3 separate regions of the Homo sapiens genome follow, and all the other regions are linked to region 2. Evidence: fine-mapped expression QTL. A gene starts in region 2. Each other region holds a variant in brackets. All regions are shown on one strand. Distances are between the middles of the regions.

Region 1 (8,185 bases), 200 kb after region 2:
TCCAGTTGGCCACTGTACGGTGTCACATCCGTTCTTCCTTGTAACTTTTTTGGACATGTCTTTTTTGGCCCCTACGTCCTCTCCATTTCTTGCCTGCTGTATTGTAGTAGCCATCAAACTATTCTACCTCTTTTGCCCTTGGTCCTCTCCAAACCATTCTGGTCACTGCCCGCAGAGAGTAATCTTTGCTAAAATGAAACATATGGGTTCCTTCTGTCTGAAATCCTTAAGTAGTTCTCCACCATGTAAAATGCTTCTCTGCCACCTACAGAATTGAGTTTAAATTCTGAAGAATAACATGGGGTCTTGGACCACATGGCTCCTGCCCACTTTTAGTGTTCCCATCCCCACTGTGCTTTTCTGCCAGAACATTTGCTCTGCCACTACCCCACCTCATTCCTCTCCTTTACTAACACCTTACGTGTTCCCATAAGGTCTATTTAGGCCTTTATGCATGCCTGCCTCCCCAGTTACGTTGAGAACATCTTGAGTGAGGTTTAGGACCATGTCTTACTTGACTGTCTATCTCCAGCATCTAGCACTCTGGCCTGTTTAAGTGAAAACACTTTACCCCCTAAGTTAAATTCAGGATGACAGGATACAGGATCAGGGTCTTACTTGGAGTTCAAGTTTATTTATCTATTTATTTTTAAAGATGGAGTCTCACTGTATTGTCCAGGCTGAACTCCTGGGCAATAGCGATTCTCTCACCTCATCCTCCCGAGTACCTGGGCTTACAGGTGTGTGCCCCTGTAGCTCAAGTTGATGTTTTTTAAAATAAAAAAGTATATGGTAGTTTTCACATGTTTCTCACCACCTAAGTCTGATTTTAAGTTAAGTTTTTCTTTTCAGTAGCTATCGTGGTAACATTGGGTTAAAGGTGAGAAAGTCTACTTTTATTTGGAGAGATGGCTATATTAATAGGAGGTATCAAAACTGAATTCTATTGGTGTTTAAGGAGCTAGCCCTGTAATGTTTAATTCCCATCTCAAATTTGAGTTAATGTGCTTAGTAGTTTTAGAATGGCAGATTACTGTTTCTGCAAATGAAGATATTTTCTTTCTAAATATTTTGTGGTAATTAGCAAGCAGGAAATAAAACTAAAGATGACTGGTAAATATTGACCCAGGTGTCCAGGAACACCAGTATCTCTAACCCTTGTTTGTTCATTGTGGTTCACACTGTCCTGATTTTTCGGTTTCTGGTGCTGCCCTGCAGTGTGAATCAGCATTATCACCCAAATTGAGCACTGCTTAATCTATGTTTTCATCTTTTCGAAACCCAGGTAAGAACCTTGATGCTGTCCATGATATCACTGTGGCGTATCCTCACAACATTCCTCAATCAGAGAAGCACCTCCTCCAAGGAGACTTTCCCAGGGAAATCCACTTTCACGTCCACCGGTATCCAATAGACACCCTCCCCACATCCAAGGAGGACCTTCAACTCTGGTGCCACAAACGGTGGGAAGAGAAAGAAGAGAGGCTGCGTTCCTTCTATCAAGGGGAGAAGAATTTTTATTTTACCGGACAGAGTGTCATTCCACCTTGCAAGTCTGAACTCAGGGTCCTTGTGGTCAAATTGCTCTCTATACTGTATTGGACCCTGTTCAGCCCTGCAATGTGCCTACTCATATATTTGTACAGTCTTGTTAAGTGGTATTTTATAATCACCATTGTAATCTTTGTGCTGCAAGAGAGAATATTTGGTGGACTGGAGATCATAGAACTTGCATGTTACCGACTTTTACACAAACAGCCACATTTAAATTCAAAGAAAAATGAGTAAGATTATAAGGTTTGCCATGTGAAAACCTAGAGCATATTTTGGAAATGTTCTAAACCTTTCTAAGCTCAGATGCATTTTTGCATGACTATGTCGAATATTTCTTACTGCCATCATTATTTGTTAAAGATATTTTGCACTTAATTTTGTGGGAAAAATATTGCTACAATTTTTTTTAATCTCTGAATGTAATTTCGATACTGTGTACATAGCAGGGAGTGATCGGGGTGAAATAACTTGGGCCAGAATATTATTAAACAATCATCAGGCTTTTAGCGACAAGGAACACACACATTTTTCTTAAAGGCCCAATCCTAACAGACTCCCCGTACCAGAGGCAGATCTGGAACTCGTCAACAACAGCCCGGATCACATGCTGTTACTGGACTGCCCAGGTCACCTCATTGAGGTGAGCGCTGTCCCTCCAGGTACTCAGGCAGGTGGTGCCCAGGCTCCCTCCCTTGGCGTCCTTCTTCCTGCGCCAAACCCATCTCATCCTTAAGATCAGAAAATGGAACCCCCTTTGTCGTGAAACCGATCAAGCATTTTGACAGGAAGCCCTTCATTATTCATAACATTGTATGCTGACCAAGACGTCAGAAGACCACCTGTGCCCTTTTCTCTCGTGGAAGATAAAACCTGGACTCAGGGAGCAACCACAGGCTCTCCACTTTGAAACTTTAGTTTGAATTTTAAAAGATAGGAAGTAATACAGTTTAAGTTCCTTTCTCACACTCAGTATTGCATGCTTAGTGCTGGTTTTCTTACAACATTTTGGCAGGTGTAGCTTTTTCTGTTAAAAATGGTATACATGAAGTCACATACTTTTTTAAAGGAACACTCAGAACATTCTGTCATTCCAGTCAGAAACTGTCTTTTGAAATATTTCTTTACAACCTACCAAAAAAGGAAGGTTGTTTTTTCTACATGTGCTTGGGTATCTAACATCTACCATTAAAACAACAAATGGCTTGCAGACAGGGCAGTAATGGTTTATCCTAAATTACTCAACCCCTTGTAGCCTTGACAAATTTTACCTTAAAACCAAAATGAAACACAAAAATTAATCCTTAATAATGATAGCAAGTGATCTTTCTTTTTAGTTTTAGCCTTCCTTTTTCAATAGTAATATTTAAACCCACTTTTGACCAATTGTTTGCCCAAATATTCTTGTCATTTGGAGTCAGTGGAAAATCCAGCACACCAAGCACCAGTCTTCTTCTGAGGCAAAAGAAAAGTGTTGTCATTTTCACTCTGTTGGAGCTGCACACTTTTTTTTCTTTTTTTTTTTCTTTTTTTTTTTGTC[G/A]TGTAAGAAGGATGCTGGTCAGAGCTGCAGAAAATATGAGGCAATTAAAAGTCTTTAGCTGTTAGCAAACCTGTTAGTTTTACTTCTGCATTGAACCAGCCTCAGAAGCTACTTACTGCTTTATGTACTCTTTGGGCATTAATGCCTTCTCTGTAATTATATCTCGTTTTTGCTTGACAGTGACCTACCCAATAATTGCATCGTGCATTGCCATGAAAGGTAAACACATTGTGAACTGAACTTACCAAGCAGATTCTGTGAGAAAGCACTGGTTGAGGCTGAACACTGTTGACACATCATTTTTATTGGAAGAGTATTAACTGGTGCCTCTTCTGAAACACACCAACCCATATTCCTCTGCTCCCCCAAAGCTGTTTCTGATCCTGCTGGGAGCAACTAACTAGTTATTATGCACATCTGCTCCAGACCCAGCTCTTTAACTTCATGGTTTTACAGCTTGTTTTTTCTTTTTCTTTTCTTTTTTTTTTTTTTTTTTTAAAAAAGCACCTTTTTTTGTTGTTTCCCCTTAATAAAAGAGGTTTCTAATTTATGTTTCTCTAAGATTTCCTTTGGTTGTATTTAGAAACACAAATAGTTTTATAATCAGGATTGCATTTGTGCTGGGTAAAAGAGGAGAGCTGTGCTTTCTACCCCAAAGTTGTTGGTAATGGAGCCGGTCTGCCCTTCCTACAAACTCAAGAGGCTCATTGTTCAAGGTGTAACAACATTTAATTGCATGTCCTCTAACGCTTTGAAACCTTTAGAGGGAAGATCCTCATTTTTTACAATTTTGTTCCTTTTCATCATAGAAAACATGTTTAAGATAAAATACAAACTTTACCTACCCCAAATTCATAAAGTACATTTAGTGCTGTATAGCACTAAAACTTAGAGATACAGACACTGTACTTACTTTTTAAGAATTAGAGACAGTAACTCCAAAAATAATTGTCCTTTTTTCTTTCTTTCTTTTTTTACAATAAGGCTCTTGAAAATTGTCATTACTTGTGTTTTCCTATACATTCATCTGTGTGAAAGCCTTTTTCTTCTTTGATTTAAAAAAATTAACTATACAGTTAATGGTTTAGAACTTAGAACTACTTAGAATTAATGCTAAAGTGTCAGGAAGAAATTAATTTAGCTTCAATAATTGTGACTGGCCTCAGGAATTCTCCCTTCCACACCTGCCCACCTCACCTCACTGCACCGCACCGCACCAGAGCCAGAGCAGCTGCTTGTCTGCAGCAGGACACAGTTCCTACATACGTTTCAGTTCTTTCATGGTAAGCTCAATGGACTTTGAATTGTTTACAGTGCTGTATGTCCAATTGTTAAATGTACCATTCTGAACGATGTTAAAGCAAGTGTGGTTTATTTATGGCATGAACCATGTAACTTGAAATATGAACTTACAAGGAGGGGCACTCATTAGGTAACAAGTTCTTACACCAAACTTCCTTGATGAAATAAGCCAAAATAATCCTAAAATTCATTAGAAGAACTTGATAAAAGACTCAAATAAATGTTAGAAAGAGCCCGTAATTTTAGGACTCCTATAAAATTCTTCCTTGTTTGTTAATGCTATTAAAACTCAGATTCAAGGGAAATACCAGCTTCCACTTGAGTCACTTTGAAATAGTTAATTCAACAGCACCATGTTAGAAATATATTGGCAGCCAAGACTCTGAACTCTGCAGAAACATTTGTTTCACCCAGACTTCAAACTCTAGCCCTGACTATGATGCCCCTGTGTGCATTTACAATAAAGACTCCAACGGAGGGAGCCTGTTGGTGTTAAATTGTTTACATTTCTTTATACAAATAATGTGCTTTCAGTGCCTTAGTTACAGCTCCCTTTCTGTTTCTTGTTCCAAGGATTCTGTAGTATGTAGTGTGTTTCTTAGGTAAAGTCTCTTTTTGCTACTGAAAGGGAAATGGTCTCTAAACACTGGTCACTGTAGCAGGTAAACACTACTCTAACGTGGAGAAATGAGCTTCATGCTGAGGTAGTGGTTGCCTTAGAGCTGTTATTTATGCTGTAGAAAACGAAAATGGTTTTGCTACCTGATAAGCTTCAGATTAGATATAGCCCTAAAGTTATCCTGTACCTGCATTAAATTTTCATTTTAGAAGAGAATCTTGGTTTTGGTAATTCATTTTTTTTTAAGATCATTATGTGCAAAACACCAAGTTTTAAAAATAACTCACAGAATGGCCTTAGTTTTCAATGTCTGATGGTATATTTGTGAGTTGTGTTATCTGTAATATACATCCCAGAATAAAGGAGTGAATTAAATAGTTTACATGTGTGTTACGTTCTGTTTTTGCAGGAATAACAAGTAACTGCAAGTTAAGGTGCTACTTTTTTCCCCACAATGCCTTGCATTGCAGTGTCTAGTGTTAAGGAAAAACCTGGCCAGTTAGGTCTCTTTTTTCCACAGATGTCAAGAAAAGTGGCCTAATCAAGAAAACAATGTACTACCTCCATAATAGGAAAAGTCCAGGCACCACAATTGAATTAAGGACTCAACGAATGTCATCAGAACTTGATTTTCCTCCATCTCTTAGCACAGCCTTGCTATTGAGAACAATTTGGTTGTTCCACAAATGTGGGATCTTATATAAATATCAGCATGACCAACTCTTACCTAAGATAAGTGGGACTCTGTGCTCCAGTCCCTGACCTCACGTTGGGGAGTATATAACTATAAAAGCAAATCTTGGACCAAAATCTGACAAATGTATAAAAATGTGCTTAGCAAACAGACAAACACATGAGAATCACGGAGCCTCTTGTAATGGGGCCTTCTGCAATGCCCCACTCTGTCTTCTCAAGTGAGCACTTTGTGTGATAGATTCATGTGGAGGGGAGTCCACAACGTTGTTCCCTGGGAAAGGGGAATGCAGGACCAGAAGAGCACAGACCCGGCCCCAAGAGCGCCAGTCCCACAGACTGGGACATTGGGTTTGTGGGACTCCTGTCCTCCGTTTAAGCAAAAGGAAGAGAAGGGTTTTGTTTCTCACCACCTACTTAGCTTCAGCATTATTCATTTCACTGATAAATTATATAAAAGGCTTAAGCAACCCTCTCTGGAGGGTGGATTTCTAGTGAGGGCTTCAAATTCCAGCTAGTATGTCCTGGGATGGACATAAGATACTAATCCACACATATACAGTGCACCTTCATACTGATATTTTTAAACTAAATTACTAAAGAGAACTTGTGCTGTCCTTGGCTTGATTTGCAGGATCCATGTAGGGTGGCATGGTGCCTGCAGCCACTTCAGCCCTGCATCCTCTCAGGTTCAAGTCCAGTGGGAAAGAACAAGAGAGACTGCTGTCCCTATGGCGCAACAGCAACCCCATATTGGGTTTCAGTGCCCATTCCTGGACCAGTCAATTGCCCAGATACATGATGTGTGTTACAGCCCTGGGTTACTTGCGGAGCCTGTTGAGTAACCTGGACAGCATGGATGGGGGAGGGATGACTTTTAAGACAAAAATTAAACACTTGTTATCAAGAACAGGATGAACTGACGCTGGATGGCCAAATTACCACAAATGTCCACCACAACTATCAAATTTCCCAGCCTCCCAGTGGAGAGAGGACTGGGAGGCTGGAGCAAATGACTGTGATTTCCTGTGCAGTGAGAGGCATCAAGAGGCTGAGCAGCCTTGTCTATCCACATCAGGGGTTACTTGGGAACCTAAGGGTTCTCCATAGCTGTGTCTGGACAATCTCATCAACAATTGGTCCATCTGAATTATTCAGTCATTGCCTCCACAGAGATCAGTATTGAGAGCATTTCCTTATGGGAAATTTCTTGAAGTGTAAATACTACAGCTCTAATGGCTCTCCCTGTTGGCAGAGGCAGTTCACATTCTCCCAGTGCTGCAGGTTCAGAATATTGCAGCGTCCCTCCTTCCTGGACACTCAAGCTGTCACTACCACCCGTGTCTTCCTCTTCAGGGCCCTTCTTACTTGTGTTCTGCACACAACTATTGCATCAGACCTGGGCAGGTCTGGCAACATCCAATCAGTTTCCTGCTCCCACATTCTCCCGATGCCAATCCTGGTGCACTGGACTTGTTCCTTGATCATACTGCAACACCAGTTTTATCATGGAGCTTCCCTTCTCATAATGCAGTGCTTCCTACCAACTGCTGGACAGTCTAGACACCTCTGCCTCCCCTGGGTCCTCTAGCCTAGGCTTAACCTTGTTTCTAGGCATTTTCTCCTGTGCGAACCTTTTCATATGAGCACAGCTGGTTGCCCAAACCTCCTCATGTCCCCTCTCCCTTTCCCAACTTTGCACATATTTCTCATTTGTGAAAGGTGCTTTCTTAACCAGCCCGAGTCTAGTTGAATCCCACTTTTTCTCTGAAGCTTATCCTGTTCAATCTAGCTTGAAATGTCCTCCTCCTATCATGGATGATATTTCTCTGCAGCTCTCGCTTGAGTGTATTACAAGCTGTCTTATGTTACAGTTATTTTTCAATCTTATCACCTCCATTGGATTATAAGCTTTCATTTCTCTTATCCCAAACAGTGTTCAGCCCAGCCATTCTTTTTGCACAATACATTCTTAATGATGTTTGCTTGAAGTCATTCATAAAGCATCCTGTTTGTTTTAAATGAAAGCTGGGTGGAGAAGTTTACAAATTTAAAATTTAAAAATTTTTTTAAATTTTTTAAATTTAAATTTAAAATAAAATAAAATTTAAATTTATTTTATTTTTTTTTTTTAAAAAGGCCAGGTGTGGTGGCTCATGCCTGTAATCCCAGCACTTTGGGAGGCTGAGGCAGACGGATCACCTTAGGTCAGGAGTTTGAGATCAGCCTGGCCAATATGGTGAAACCCCATCTCTACTGAAAATACAAAAATTAGCCAGGTGTGGTGGCGGGCGCCTGTAATCCCAGCTATTCAGGAGACTGAGGCAGGAGAATCACTTGAATCCAGGAGGCAGAGGTTTCAGTAAGCTGAGATTGTGCCACTGTACTCCAGCCTGGGCAACACAGCGAGACTCTGTCTCAAAAATAATAATAATAATAATTGAAGTGCAAGTCCATCTACTTCTGGAAAATAGATTTTT
Region 2 (8,185 bases):
AGCCACTGTTAGTTGCACTGTTAGTTGAGTTTGTGATAACTTACAGAGGAAGGTGTTCCTTACTGATACAGAGGGTTTGTATTGAGTAGTAGCAATAGGATAAAATTGTTTTTTTCTATGTTGGATGAGTGACTCATCACCAGGGTTCTAAACATACTTTCTGGTAGTTGTATCTTTTTAGCCTAAGTGAAATTTTGGTCCATCAATATATCAGTTAGGTTTTCACAAGAAACAAGTGACACCCTTGGCACAGAGGGATGATTAAAGAGAGTTGAAGGCTGACTACAAAGGTACAATCAGCGTTAAGGGAAATTAACAGAGGGCAATGAAGTACCCTGAGGCTAGACACAATAAGTTAGGCCATCACACACCCTGTGGGCCCTGCCTAAAGGGACAAGGCGGGGAGTGGGTCCCAGAATCCAGTGAGAGCTGGGCTCTAGACAAGGAGCTGTGGCCTTACGTGAAGTGTTGAAGCCACTGCCACCCTGCAGCCCCACAGGGAGGGAGCCAGGGGAATGCAGCCTTGAGCTGTTTCTCAGCCCACCCTGCAGAGTCCAGCCAGGGCCTCCCATTGGCTAAACCCTGCCAGAGGCAAAAGACCAGGAGTCAGGAGAGGAAAGCCGGACAAGTCAGCATAAAGATGGGGGTGGGGCCGGGCGAGGTGGCTCACACCTGTAATTCCACCAGTTTGGGAAGCTGAGGGGGGTGGATCACCGGAGGTCAGGAGTTCAAGACCAGCCTGACCAACATGGAGATACCCGGTCTCTACTGAAAATACAAAATTAGCCAGGTGTGGTTGGCACATGCATGTAATCCCAGTTGCTCGGGAGGATAAGGCAGGAGAATTGCTTGAACCCGGGAGGCCGAGGTTGTGGTGAGCTAGGATGGTGCCATTGCACTCCAGCCTGGGCAACAACAGCGAAACTCTGTCTCAACAACAACAACAAAAAAGATGGGGGTGGGGAACGGGGAAGGGGAGAGATGGAGCAAAAAGAGAATAATCAGAACTATTAATAATTAGACTCCACAGCTGTTTTGTGCTAATGTAAATTTGTCACTACTTCCAAGCTGTACCTTCTAGCACCAAAACTCCTCAGCTACCAAAGACATGGCTTACTCCATGTCTCAAGAAATTAAAACATTTCATTTCAAATGCCTTTTGAATTTCAGAATCTCGTTGGATGACTGGTGATATTAGGTAATGCTAAGTCTCATTCATAGAAATTTTTGCAAAGAGGGAATTGCAAAAGAAATTTTGCAATTCTTGCTTGCAAGCAATAAACTGTAGGCTATAATAAATGGGCCACTCTGGGCCTCCAGTTAAGTATCTGTGGCCTCTGCTGGCACTGGGCTGCATGTTGCTTGTATTCATTACCTTGGGAGAGACTTGCTCCGATTTTATTGGCGGCAATGTACTTGGCTCTTTTCTGAGGTCTGTTATTGAGCACAGATTTTCCCTTATTACTCTCACATTTTGAAGAGGAGTGAGCAATTACATGGGCATAGAAAGTACCCCAATAATGACAAAAGTACAATAAGAACTAGGACTTGAGATTTCCTGTATGTCATAGTGTGTCCCTGAGCATTACAGAGAGTGCCCTATTAAATGTGACCATTAAGTCAATGGCTCATGAGGTTCAGCAATTCATCAGCTGTGATGCTCTGTTACTGGGGTCAGGAAAGATTGAGAAACTTGTCCCTTTGGGACAGTAGAGCACAGATTAACACCACTTTTTAAGTGTTATATACTACAATGTAATAATAATAGAAATAAAGTGCACAATAAATGTAATGTGGTTGAATCATCCCGAAATCACCCCCTTCACCCTTCACCCCGTTCATGGAAAAACTGTCTTCCACGAAAGCAGTCCCTGGTGCCAAAAAGGTCGGGGACTACTTCTCTGGATGTCTTGATGAAATACATACATTTCAGACGCGGATAAACCCCACAAAAATTCAGGAGCTTGCTACATTGGTGATATTTTAAAATAATTATTTAAAAAACTGGGGGGGTAGTTTTAGACTTAGGAGAGATGTAAAGAGAGTACAGGGATTTTTCCATATATTCTTTACCTAGCTTCCCCTTATGTCAACATCTTGTGTAAGCATAGAACATGTATCAAAACAAAGAATGATCCTGGTACAATAGCATTATGTAAACTATACATCATTTTGGATGCTGAAGTGGTCCAATGATCTTGGGCACGTCAAGACATTTTCCCCAGAATGAAAAACATGTTACTACACCTTGCACCTCTGCCAAAAAGAAAGAAGCATGACACTTAGCAGATCTCTGAGTTTAGAAATCAGCATATTTTGCCCTTGGGAATTCTGTTCCTATCCCTTTAGCAGTTGACGTGGAAGGTGGCTACTGATCAGTAGCTCAGATCAAGAACGGGCTCAGGGCCAGGCGCGGTGGCTCAAGCCTCTAATCCCAGCACTTTGAGAGGCCAAGGTGGGTGGATAGCTTGAGCTCAGGAGTTCGAGACCAGCCTGGCAACATGTTGAAATCCTGTCTCTACAAAAAACACAAAATTAGCTGGGCATGGTGGCAGATGCCTGTAGTTCCAGTTAGTCTGGAGGCTGAGGTGGGAGGATTGCTTGAGTCCAGGAGGCAGGGGTTGTAGTGGGCCACAATCATGCCACTGCACTCCAGCCTAGGTGACAGAGCGAGACCCTGTCTCAAAAAAAAAAAAAAAAAAAAAAAAAGCAAAGAAAAGAAAAAAGAAAGAGCCCAGCACTGTCCTCTGTGGTTAGGGCGGTAAGGGCAACCTTGCCTCTTGGGCTGTATCACCGGACACACCTCACAATGCTAGAGCTCTCTGCAATGGAGCTGCAAAGGCTATGAGGAACCTCCGGCAAGCCCCCAAAGAACCACAGTAGAGCCCTTGAAGGTTCTGGAGCATAGCCAGGCCAACTCTTAACAACAACAAAAAAGAATTGGGAGATCTTTTATTCCAGTAATCTTATTTTAAAGGTAAAAAGGAGGCCTAAAGTCATAGGCATAATTGGCAGAATTGACTTTTGTTCTGGTGTTTCTCTCTGTAGTCATTCTTCACTTTCTGATGCAATTTTAGCACATCTTAAATATTAAAATGTTTTGGAACAAACTTAGAGAAATTATGAAGCTAATTTAGGAAAAGAGCACAAGAATCTTTGATTTACAGGCAATTTGGGGATATAATTTAGCTATATTGAAGCTATGCAGCCAACATGTAGATGGTCATTATTATTACACCATAAATTTTGTGAGGTCAGGAACCTTGTAATTTTAAAAATATTCACTCTGTGCTTTGTTGAATAAACGGATAAAACGTATAGACATACATGAACTACTGATGAGTGGCTGTGTGTGATGTGTAGCTATGTTTATTATTTTTAAGATTCTTATTGTATTTGTTGAAGGCCAAGTTGAGGAGGGAATTGCTTAAGGGAAATGAAAAGGGGTTTAACCACAGTCCCCACCATTCAGGGGCATGCAATCTAGTAGGTTAGGGGACAGGACAGACACACCATGATAGGTGATCGAGACCTTTTAAGAGCAGTGTGATGAAATTGCTATGGGAACTGGGAGGAAACATTTTCTAGGACTGGGGAAACACTGAGTGTGCTAGAAAAACTTTGTGCTCCTGATCAGGGAACCTGGGTTCTATAACTGCTTCTACTACTGATTTGTCCTGTGACTTCGCGCACCAAATTTAGGCTTGTAAATTAAACTCCCAGATTTCTGTTTTCCATTTTGCAGCTCTAGGGGTTGAATGAACCATTAGGTTCCCTCGGACAAATGACCTCCGCTAATTTCCTATTTCGTTGTTTTCTCACCCCTACACCCCACCGTTCCGTGGGTCCCTCCTCTCCAGGAGGCCAGACGAGGAAATAAGCGAGGCCTCTTTAAAGGAGCTCTCAAAGAAAGGTACCCGGGGTATCCCGGGCTGTGGAGCAAGCGCGGGGCGCCGGGGACCCGGGTTTCCCACGCAGCCGGGGACGCCGTTGCGTCACGGCGCCTGCAGCCAATCAGGACGTAGCCTTCCGGGACGCATTACTAGGGCGACGGCCGGACGCCTCCGCGTTACGGGATGAATTAACGGCGGGTTCCGCACGGAGGTTGTGACCCCTACGGAGCCCCAGCTTGCCCACGCACCCCACTCGGCGTCGCGCGGCGTGCCCTGCTTGTCACAGGTGGGAGGCTGGAACTATCAGGTGGGGTTACGGCGCGAGGAAAATGGCGGCGGCCGGGGGATCTCAGAGGTGCAGGAAGGGGAGCTGCAGCCCGGGCTTTTCCTCCTGAGCCATGGACCTTCCCCGGGCCGCGACCTCGGGTAACGGCCACTGGCCTGGCATTTGGGGTCCCGGTGCAGGTGGCGGTAGCGTCGCTGGCTCAGGTGGAAGGAGGCGCGGGGAAGCGACTCCTGGAGGCTGGCTGAGGCGTCAGGTGCTGAGGGGCCGCGCGAGCGGCGAGGGCGAGGTAGCCGCGGGGCGAAGAGGGTCCCGTCGGTGTTTACGCTAGGAGCGTCAAAACCTTCCTCCTGCGACCTCAGCGGGTCTGGGAGCTGCACTGTCCCGGAACGCAACCTGAGGTCTGACCCTGTTAAATCCCATGCACTAAAACGTCTCAAGTGGTCACCACGTGCGGGGCTTCGACGAGAGCCGTGGAGAGCAGGGGCTGGGGTTGTCTTCCCTGCGAGTCCTGCAGGCGCCAAAGGCCTGCCTGTAGGTGCCAGAGTGGCAGTGCCGCGAAAAGAAAGGTAGGCCCTAGCCAGGGCGGATGCCAAACCTGATCTTTAAGGTGTATCGTAGCTTCTAATTGCCCATTTGAAGAAAAGAAGTTGAAAGATAAGGCACTTAGATGTGGTTGTGGAGATGTTTTGCTTTCTTGTACTTCCCTGGTTCAGGTGGCTTCCCTGGAAATACTGCATCTGCCTTTAAAGTTCATTAACTGTGTTTCTTGTGTACATGGCAGTAGATGAGATTAGGGATTGAAGTCACTTTAAGTCCAAGAAAAGTATTGAAGATATGTGTTGAAGGCATTACCAAGATGAAATATTTATTCATATCATTAACTTATTTGTTCAAAGAAACGTCATCTCATGAAGTATAACTACGTGGGTTAGTTTTCAAAAAACTGACTTGATGAAAGCCCTTTTTGTAAAACATATTTTTTGAGAGTAAGTAAAAATACATCATCACTTTTTCGTTTAGGTTTCTGTTGCACATTGTACTTTGATATGCTTGATATGACAGATAAGCATAATGTTAACTGACTTTTGTTTTTGGTAGTAGGCTTGATTTTATGGAGTAGTACCTTGTTCTGTAACTGAGAAAAACGTAATAGCGCTTGTGTTTCAGTCATCAATAGCTGCAATCTCTGGAGTGCCAACTATGTGTCAGTTTCTGTGAAAGCTAGGCTTCTCCTACTTTTTAATTTGAACACATGGTCGTCTGCATCTGCCCCCACCAGGTCTTTAGGCTGGCTGTTGCTGACAACCAGGAGGAAGCAATGGGGAAAACCCAAAAGATTCTTCCAAACTGGATCCATGGAGATTTGGTCAGTTTGTCCTGGGGTTGAGGTTATGGGTGGATTCTAGTCCAAACTCTGCCACTTAAAAATATCTTAGGGTAATCATACAACTTCACTATTGGTGTCTTATCTCTAAAGTGAGTATTTCTTATTCAAACAATCTCATTGCACTGTTGGGAGGAAAAAGAAAAGACAGTATGTGTGAAAGGGCTTTAAAAAGTTAAAAAAACAGTGAAAATATTTGAAATTTATTCCTCTGCATTCATGTACTCTGCCAGGCACTGAATCCGGGGACTTATATGTGCCAACTCAGTCATCTAGCATCACTGTGAGGCGGATACATTTATTATCTTTATTTTGCAGATGAGGAAACTGAAGCACATTGAAGTTTAAGTAATTTGTCCATATCACACAATTAGCATTGTGTTTCCAGCCTGTGTTCTTACTGTCTTACTACCACCATGCCTACTATCTTCCTATGACATACAGATGTGTTATGTATTAAGGGGAAACATTAATTCATGTACAAATTTTTCATTTTTAATATATATATTTTTCTTTTTCAAAGGCTCTAGCAATGTCCTAGAATGAACACATATTTCAAGCCAGTAGTTTTGTTTGTGATCTTGTGTAAATAATAATCATGGTTTATTCCATTGGCGTCCAATAGTGATTTGTGTGGTAACAATTACATTTACTTTGGTTAAGTGGTATATTCTTCTTACTTGTGTTGCCCATTAATTAAAAAGTTATTTTGAAACAGAGTTATGACTAATTTCTTTTTTTTTTTTTTTTGAGAGGGAGGTTCGCTCTTGTTGCCAGGGCTGGAGTGCAATGGCACGATCTCGGCTCACCACAGCCTCTGCCTCCCGGGTTCAAGCGATTCTCCTGCCTCAGCCTCCTGAGTAGCTGGGATTACAGACATGTGCCACTACGCCTGGCTAATTTTGTATTGTTAGTAGAGACGGGGTTTCTCTGTGTTGGTCAGGCTAGTCTTGAGCTCCCGACCTCAGGTGATCCGCCTGCCTCAGCCTCCCAAAGTGTTGGGATTACAGGTGTGAGCCACTGTGCCTGGCTAGTTATGACTAATTTCTATCAGGAAGCACAAATCAATAATTGGGATTTTTGTTTTTATTACATTTTTTAAAAGAATAATTTGCTGGGGGACTTTTAAAAGAAAACTGATTTTAGTTAAGCTTGTTGTTTTGATATACTTGTGCTAATTTTTCCAGTCTTTATTTATTAATAAAATAGGATGAGTAAAAGTGGCTAGGACATTTATTGTTTCATTGAACCTTTATGGAATAGCCCTGCCAAGTCTTTAGGATGTAAACATTAACTCCTGACCCTACCCTTGAGGAGTTCAGGGAGAAGTCCCAGGTCCAGAAGTTTGTAGACAGTTGAGACAAATAAATAAATGATTAACTAATAAAGCATGATAAGGACTCAAATATAATTGTGGGTACAGAGACCTGTGAGAGCACATAAAAGGGAACAGTTACTTCTTCTGGGATGGGCCTGGCCAGAAGAGGAAGGGAGCTAACTGGAGGATAAAGGCGTAGGGAGAAACAGAGCAAAGCTAGGACAAGTGAGAGCTCATGGTGTCCAGGGGTCAGACCACAGTATTACAGGTGTTGCTGGGAGAGAAGCCAGGAAAGGTTAGAGCCAGGTTGTGAACTCTTAGCTAAGAGAGTGGGAACTCTCCTGCGGGCAGTGGGAACTGTAGAAGGATCTCGATTAGATGCATAGCTTCCACTTTATGCTACAAAAATGCTAGGATAATGGGTGTTAGAATTTTTTTCTTTTTACTTTAGGTTTTGAATATATTTGTACAGAAATCATTGTAATATGGAAGTAATCACTGATGGTTTCTCTAGTTTTAAAGCTGATCTCCACTTAAACGTGTGTAACACTAAAGTTGTCCAGCACCTAACAACATAACATGAATGCAGTGCAAATCGACTACAAGGTAGGGTGTGCAAATCTTGCAAAAGATGCAGGATTTCATGAAGTCAAAGCAAGGGGGAGAACTGCTGAAACCATAAGCGCAAATAAAGGACTAGTGCCTGGAATAGGCAGAGATTCTTAAAAAGGACTCAGAAAGCAATGATCATGAAAATGATTGATAAATTTGTCTTCAGACTTCTTTAAAATTGGAAACTTCTCTTCATCTGAAGACACCACTAAGAAAATGAAGAGCAAAATATGGACCGGAAGAAGAAATTTGCAATTTATATATCTGACCAAGGACTCATACCGTGTGTGTGTGTTTATTTGTGTGTGTGTAGCATAAACAAAATTAATGAGAAAAATCATTTTAAAAATGCATAGATGTCTTGAACAGGCACTGTCTATTAGAGGGTCTCAGAATGGCCAGTATGCACATAAAAAGGTACTTAACATTATTTGCCAGTGGGAAATATAAATTAAAACAATAATGAGATACTGCTATACACCTTCCAGAATAACTAAAATTAAAAAGATGGACAGTGCCGGTGTTGACAAGGGTGTAGACCAACTGGATCTCTTACATATTGTTGGTGGGGGCCAGTGTTGGCAAGGGTGTAGACCAACTGGATCTCTTACATATTGTTGGTGGGGATGTCAAATGGTACAGTCACTTTGGAAGACTGTGGCTTTGTCTACTCCTACCCGTGATCAAATGCT
Region 3 (8,185 bases), 20 kb after region 2:
ACTGCTTATGTTAATGTATAGTCAGCCCCTCTGTATCCACAGGTTTTGCATTCATAGATTCAACCAACCATGGATCAAAAATATTTGAAAAAGAATTGCCTCTGCACTGAACATGTACAGACTTTTTTCTTGTCATTGTTCCCTAAACAATATAACTATTTATATAGCATTTACATTGTATTAGATACTATGAGTAATTTAGAGATAAAGTATTTTGGAGGATGTGAGCAGGCTATATGCAAATATGATGTCATTTTATATAAGGAACTTGTGCATATGTTGATTTTGATGTCCTCAAGAGGCCCTGGAACAGATCCCCCATGGATATTAGATGACTGTGCTTCACTTTTTAAAAACTGGTTGCATAATATTCCAGTTATATGGCTATGCCATAATTTAACCATTTCTCTGTTGATGGACGTTTATACTATTTCTAATTTTCACATACAAATAGTGCCTCCGTGAGCATTTTTATCTTTTCTTACTTTTATGAGTACTTTTGTAGGATAGATTAGAATGAAATTATTGTGTAAAAATGTATATGTGTTTTATAATTTGCCAGCCATGCTGAATTTGCCTTTTAAAAGGGCTCTATCAGTTGATTCTCTTAGCAATTGTATGTTTGAGGCCTTATTTTCCTATGCCCTCACTTTGCTGGATACTATCATTGTCAAATATGAAAAAGTAATTGGAAACATGGTGTCATGCTACATATTAGTCTGATTTCTTTCCCTTTTTTTTTAGTGTTCATTTTTGTATGTGACTCTTGATTCTTGGCCCATTTTCCTATTGTAATTCTATAATGTTTTCATATTTTACATGTAACTCTTTAATTCATCTGGAATTTATTTTGATTTTATGGAATGAAACTGCTTGATTCTGGAGGAGATTCAAGGGCTAGTGGGTCTTGAAATTGTGTGTCTGGAAAAATTTAGAGGATAAAAATAAATTTTGCTGCCTTTGGAAAGTAGTTTGTCTCAAATTTATTTAAAAACTTAGTTTATTATTACCCAACTCTATAAAGTATGTTGGGGCAATAAGAAAATCTTGCCAACAAAAAGACCCCTTCTTACCAATGTAGAAGAGAAAGAACGCTCTGTTTTTATTTGCATGTCAGATACGTGCAGATAGGTAGTTTGAGACTACAAAATTTGAGCAGAATTTAACTCATACAGTGAAACAGACAAAACTTCTCTTGTATTCTTGGGGCAAATGGATATACCCTGTGATAGTTTCCTGTGCACCTGATGAAATTCCCGAGTTAATTTCAGTGGTGTTTGTTTGCAGTGTCTAGGGTCAGAAGGCCTATGACCTTGTCATTGTAAATCTGGAGACTAGGATAGTATCTAATTCCTGACGAAAAGGCTTGGCCTATTAGGGTTTTTTTGTTTTTGTTCTTTTTAAATTTTTATTTACTTTTTGTTTTATTTTTTACATAGAGATGGAATTTTGCCATGTTTCCCAGGCTGGTTTCAAACTCCTGAGCTCAAGCAGTCTGCCCACAAAGAGCTGGGATTACAGGCATGAGCCACCATGCCTGGCCAGGCCTGTTAGGTTTTTAAAGAGATCCTCTGTGGTAGGCTGAAAATGGTTCTCTAAAATATTCAAGTCCTAATCCTGGAACCTGTGAAATGTTACCTTGTATGTTAAAAAAAATGGTTTTTGTAATTAAATTGAGGATCTTGATGTCTAGGGCACTTATCCTGGATTATGTGAGTGGTCCCTAAAAGCAATCCTGTGTATGTTTATCAAAGTGAGGCAGAGGGAGATTATACGTACACAGAGGAGGAGGAGGCAGTTGGACCAGGAGGTAGAGATTTGAGTGTTAACGGCCACAAGTCAAGGCATTCCCACAGCCATCAACAGCTGGAATAAGCAAGGAACAGATTCTCACCTGGAGCCTTTGGAGGGAGTGTGACCTTGCTTTTGTTCTAATGATACTGCTTTCAGACTTTTTTTGGCCTCTAGGAGTGGAAGAGAATAACTTTCTGTTTTAAGCCACCAAGTAACTTGTTACAGCAGCGATAGGAAACTACTGTACACCCTAAAGACAAAAGGGCTGTGCCCCTTTTATTAAAACAAGAAAGATTCATTCATTATATTTACTATGTTAATTATTGTGAATAGCACTTAATTCTTATCTACTCTTTGCTAATCACCGTTATTTATTGGTTCTCAGTGTTGAATAACAGGCTAAACACTCTACCAAAATGACATTAAAATGAAAAGTTAACCTCAATAGTAAAGTTAATAAGGAAATATTTTGACTTTTTTTAAGCCTGGAAAGTGAGTAATTTAGAATCATTTATATTATTTTGAGATTTGCTTTTGAATTGAGGACAATAAAGTGTATTTATTTCTCTTATTAGTGAAGTGGCATGAAAGAACAAAAGTCTTCTTTAACAGAAAGAATTTCAAGTCCATTGCATTTTGTTAAAACTTTCCCCAAATTTTATTTTTTTCAACCAAGTGGTAGATTATATAACTAATGTTACAATTAATTTTTTTCTGATTTTTTTTACTGACATATAATTTCTTATATTTTTGATAAAGTAACTCCTTAGAGTTGTCTAGATGAGTTGTATTTTTTCAGTTTGCTGACAAACTATTTTTCTTGCTTTATTAAAAATGATTAAATTTCCTAATTCTGCTTTTACCTATTTGATAATTCTTTATTTTATTAGAATTGTTAGGACTTTGTAAATTTTTTCATAAAGAACCAAGCTCATTTTAAAGTTCCGCTGTTTTTTCTGTGTTTTCTTTTTTTCTTTTCTTTTCTTTTCTTTCTTTCCTGCTTTCTTTTTTTTTTCTTTGAGACAGGGTCTCACTGCCACCTAGGCTGGGCTGGAGCTCCTAGACTCAAGTGATCCTCCCACCTTGGCTTCCCAAAGTGCTGGGATTGTAAGCATGAGTCAATGTGCCTGACCCTTTCTGTGTGTTGTTATCTAATCAATCATTTTTACTGTCATCCATATTTCTATTTTTGTTTTTTAATCACACCTTTTATTTTAAAAATTTGACTGCTTGATTTTAAAATTTGCATTGCTTAGTTTATGTTCTGTTTATTTAAATACTATTTTAGAAACTATTTCAGTACAGCTTTGTATGAATCCTGTAACTTTTGATATGCGATGTCTTTATATTTTTTCTAAATATTCTGTTGCACTGGTTCTAAACTTTGGTGAATATCAGTCTCAGCTGGCAGGCTTATTAAAAATGCAGATATTCCAATTCTACTTAACACTGGGTATAGGGCCTGAGCTTCTGCATTTTTAACAAGCTCCCCACCCCCTGGTAATCTGGATTAACATCAGCATATGGGAACTACAAGTCTTATATATTTTTAATTTTTTCATTAATTCAACAGTTATTTAGGAAGGCTTAAGAATTTCAAATCTTTAGGGTTGTTTGTTTTGAATTACTCTTAGTTTTATTGTATTATAATCAGAAGCTTGCCCTGCAAAATTTATTTTTTATTTTTTTTAAATTATACTTTAAGTTCTAGGGTGCATGTGCACAACGTGCAGGTTTGTTACATATGTATACATGTGCCATGTTGGTGTGCTGCACTCGTTAACTCGTCATTTACATTAGGTATATCTCCTAATGCTATCCCTCCCCTCTCCCCCGACCCCACGACAGGCCCCGATGTGTGATGTTCCCCTTCCCGTGTCCAAGTGTTCTCATTGTTCAATTCCCACCTATGAGTGAGAATACGTGGTATTTGGTTTTTTGTCCTTGCAATAGTTTGCTGAGAATGATGGTTTCCAGCTTCATCCATGTCCCTACAAAGGACATGAACTCATCCTTTTTTATGGCTGCATAGTATTCCATGGTGTATATGTGCCACATTTTCTTAATCCAGTTTATCATTGATGGACATTTGGGTTGGTTCCAAGTCTTTGCTATTGTGAATAGTGCCACAATAAACATGTGTGCATGTGTCTTTATAGCAGCATGATTTATAATCCTTTGGGTATATACCCAGTAATGGGATGGCTGGGTCAAATGGTATTTCTAGCTGTAGATCCTTGAGGAATCGCCACACTGTCTTCCACAATGGTTGAACTAGTTTACAGTCCCACCAGCAGTGTAAAAGTGTTCCTATTTCTCCACATCCTCTCCAGCACCTGTTGTTTCTTGACTTTTTAATGATCGCCATTCTAACAGGTGTGAGATGGTATCTCATTGTGGTTTTGATTTGCATTTCCCTGATGGCCAGTGATGATGAGCATTTTTTCATGTGTCTGTTGGCTGCATAAATGTCTTCTTTTGAGAAGTGTCTGTTCATATCCTTCGCCCACTTTTTGATGGGGTTGTTTGATTTTTTTCTTGTAAATTTGTTTGAGTTCTTTGTAGATTCTGGGTATTAGCCCTTTGTCAGATGAGTAGATGGCAAAAATTGTCTCCCATTCTGTAAGTTGCCTGTTCACTCTGATGGTACTTTCTTTTGCTGTGCAGAAGCTCTTTAGTTTAATTAGATCCCATTTGTCA[G/A]TTTTGGCTTTTGTTGCCATTGCTTTTGGTGTTTTAGACATGAAGTCCTTGCCCATGCCTATGTCCTGAATGGTATTGCCTAGGTTTTCTTCTAGGGTTTTTATGGTTTTAGGTCTAACATTTAAGTCTTTAATCCGTCTTGAATTAATTTTTGTATAAGGTGTAAGGAAGAGATCCAGTTTCAGCTTTCTACATATGGCTAGCCAGTTTTGCCAGCACTAGCACCATTTATTAAATAGGGAATCCTTTCCCCATTTCTTGTTTTTGTTAGGTTTGTCAAAGATCAGATGGTTGTAGATGTGTGGTATTATTTCTGAGGGCTCTGTTCTGTTCCATTGGTCTCTCTCTCTGTTTTGGTACCAGTACCATGCTGTTTTGGTTACTGTAGCCTTGTAGTATAGTTGGAAGTCAGGTAGTGTGATGCCTCCAGCTTTGTTCTTTTGGCTTAGGATTGACTTGGCAATTGCCCTGCAAAATTAATTGAAATTTCCATTGTGGTCATTTGTAAATGACCTCCACTGTGGATAGTTGGGAAAAAAAATAGCCATTTGATATATATCTGTTTTTTTTTTAATTGAGGTGAAATTTACTGTACAAGAAATTAAGCATTTTAAAGTGGACAAATCAGTGGCATTGAGTACATTCATGTGTTGTGCCACCACCACTGCTGTCTAGTTTCAAAACATTTTTATCACCTCAAAGGAAACTGTGTACCATTAAGCAGTTGCTCCCTTCTACCCAGCCTCTGGCAACCACCAGTCTGCTTTCATTTCTATGGATTTGCCTATTCTGAATATTTCATATAAATGAAATTATGCAATACGTGACCTTTTGTGTCTTCTTCACTTAGTATAATGTTTTCAAGGTTTATTTAACTCTTTGAGAAACTGCTATTTTACATTCCCACCAGCAATATATGAGGGTTGCAAATTTTCTGCATCCTTACCAATGCTTGTTATTTTCCATTTTTAAAATTGTGCCCATGCTAGTGGGTATATAGTGATATCTCATTGTGGTTTTGATTTGCATTTCCCCAATGATGTATGATGTTGAGTAGCTTTTCTTATGCTTATCAACCATTTGTATGTTTTCTTTGGAGAAATATCTATTCAAGTCCTTTACTCATTTAAAAAAGTTATTTGTCTTTTTGTTGTTGAGTTGTAAGAGTTCTTTATGTATTCTGGATACTAGACCCTTGACTTGTGAATTTTTCTTCCATTCTGTGGGTTGTCTTTTCATTTTCTTGATGGTGGTCTTTCACGTGCAAAAGTGTTTCATCTGGATGCAGTCCAGTTGATTTTTTTTTTCTTTTGTTGCTCATGTTTCTGGTGTCACATGTAACAATCCCTTGCCAAATCCAAGGTTGTGAAGATTTACCTTTGTTTTCGTATAAGAATTTTATAGTTTTATCTTTTGTGTTTAGGTTTTTGATAGATTTTGAATGAGTTTGAGGACACCTTCCTTCTTTTGCATGTAGCTATCCAGTAGTATCATTTGTTACAGATATTGTTCTCTCTCCATTGAATGGTCTTTGCACCCTCGTTGAAAATCAGTTGGCCATAGATGTATGGTCATAATTCTGGACTCTCAATTAATTGGGCTACAGGTCTCTTCTTTTTTTTTTTTTTTTTTTTTTGAGACGGAGTCTAGCTCTGTCACCCAGGGTGGAGTGCAGTGGTGTGATCTGGACTCACTACAACCTCCGCCTCTGGGGTTCAAGCGATTCTTCTGCCTCAGTCTGCTGAGTAGCTGGGACTACAGGTGCCCACCACCACACCTGGCTGGGACTACAGGCATGTGCCACCTGTGCCCAGCTAATTTTTTGTATTTTTAGTAGAGAGCCAGGATGGTCTCGATCTCCTGACCTCATGATCCACCTGCTTCGGCCTCCCAAAGTGCTGAGATTACATGCATGAGCCACTGCACCTGGCCCTAATTTTTGTATTTTTTAGTAGAGATGGCGTTTCGCTGTGTTGGCCAAGCTAGTCTCAAACTTCTGGCCTCAAGTGATCCACCCGCCTCAGCCTCCCAAAGTGCTGGGATTACAGGCATGAGTCACCACGCCCAGCAAGAATCTGCATCTGATTGGTTGGGTCAGGAATGAAATCACACGAGTGTCAAAATGGTCTTGTGTGTCGAGTCAGTTTCGGGTGGGGGTTACAGGGCCAGTTGAGTCAATTTCATGGTATGAGTAACCCAGGTGGCATCAGTTGGTCCACCAGAACACGAGGTCTGAAAAATACCTCAAGAATCAGCCTTGGGTTTTACAATAATGAGGTAATCTATTGGGGTAATCGGGGAAGTTACAAGTCTTATGACCACTGGCTAGTGACTCCTGTCTAGTAAGTAATTACAAAAAAGACAAGTTAGAAAATAGTGTCTTGTTATTATTTAACTATGCTTAAGTCTTAGCAGAATTCAGGCTCCTACTGTAATTCTGACCTTGTGTCCTTTTGTTATTTTTTACAAAGATGGTTTTGGTCTCTAAACAAGGAGGGGGTTAGTTTTGGGAAAGGACTATTATCATATTTGCTTTAAAGTTAAAATACAAACTAAATTCCTCCCATAGTTGGCTTGGCCTATGTGCAGGAATGAGCAGAGACAGCTTATGAGGTTAGAAGCAAGATGGAGTCAGCTACGTTAGGGTTTTCTCACTGTTATAATTTTGCAAAGGCAGTTTCAGTACCACATTGTTTTGATTACTGTAGCCTCTTAGTAAGTTTTGAAATTAGGAAGTGTGAGTCCTCCAACTTTGTTCTTTTTCAGTGTTGTTTTGGCTGCTTGGAACCACTTGGAATTCCATTCATATTTGGTGATTGGCTTTTCCATTTCTGCAAAAGTTATTGGAATTTTGATAGAGATTGAATTGAGTCTGTAGATTGCTTTGAGTAGTATTGCCATGTTAATAGTATTGTCTTTTATTTATTTATTTTCATTTTATTTATTTATTCATTCTTTTTTTTTTTTTTTTGAGACAGAGTTTTGCTCTGTTGCCCAGGCTGGAGTGCAGTGGTGCGATCTTGGCTCACTGCAACCTCTGCCTCCCGGATTCAAGCAATTCTCTGCCTCAGCCTCCCGAGTAGCTGGGATTACAGGCGCCCACCACCACGCCTGGCTAATTTTTTGTATTTTTAGTAGGGACGGAGTTTCACCATTTTGGCCATGCTGATCTTGAACTCCTGACCTCGTGATCCACCTGCCTTGGCCTCCCAAAGTGCTGGGATTACTGGCATGAGCCACTGCACCCGGCCTATTTATTTATTTTCTAAGATAGAGTCTCACAATGTTGCCCAGGCTGGAGTGCAGTGGTGTGATCTCAGCTCACTGCAACCTCCGCCTCCCGGGTTCAAGCGATTCTTCTGCCTCAGCCTCCTGAGTAGCTGGAACTACAGGTGTGTGCCACCACACCTGACTAGTTTTTGTATTTTTAGTAGAGACAGGGTTTCGCCATGTTGCCCAGGCTGGTCTTGAACTCCTGACCTCAAGTGATCCACCCGCCTCAGCCTCCCAAAGTGCTGGGATCACAGGCGTGAGCCACTGTGCCTGGCCAGTATTGTCTTTTAATCCCTAAACCTGGTATATCCTTCCATATATTAGATTTTCCTTAATTTGTTAATGTTTTGTGGTTTTCAAAGTGTCTTTTACCTCCTTGGTTAAATTTATTCCTAGGTTTATTCTTTTGATGTTATTG

Evidence for each region. PIP is the estimated chance that this variant, and not a neighbour inherited with it, causes the effect.
Region 1: its variant is fine-mapped to the expression of LCLAT1 in whole blood (TOPMed, PIP above 0.99).
Region 3: its variant is fine-mapped to the expression of LCLAT1 in esophagus mucosa (GTEx, PIP above 0.99).

The regions. Positions count from the first base shown.
Region 1 is chr2:30,638,832-30,647,016 of GRCh38, forward strand. LCLAT1 (lysocardiolipin acyltransferase 1) reads left to right here. Exons shown (of 6, transcript NM_001002257.3): 6 at 1,286-5,394. The coding sequence ends at 1,788. Among named protein-coding and RNA genes, the nearest start is that of CAPN13, 160 kb to the right of the region's middle. The variant G/A (reference allele first, on the strand shown) is at 3,092.
Region 2 is chr2:30,443,205-30,451,389 of GRCh38, forward strand. It overlaps LCLAT1 (lysocardiolipin acyltransferase 1), which reads left to right and starts at 4,042. Exons shown (of 6, transcript NM_001002257.3): 1 at 4,042-4,179. RefSeq lists enhancers at 54-554, 3,732-4,469, 3,773-3,842, 3,883-3,942, 4,153-4,272 and 1 more.
Region 3 is chr2:30,463,467-30,471,651 of GRCh38, forward strand. All of the region lies in intron 1 of LCLAT1 (lysocardiolipin acyltransferase 1), which reads left to right. Among named protein-coding and RNA genes, the nearest start is that of LCLAT1, 20 kb to the left of the region's middle. The variant G/A (reference allele first, on the strand shown) is at 4,495.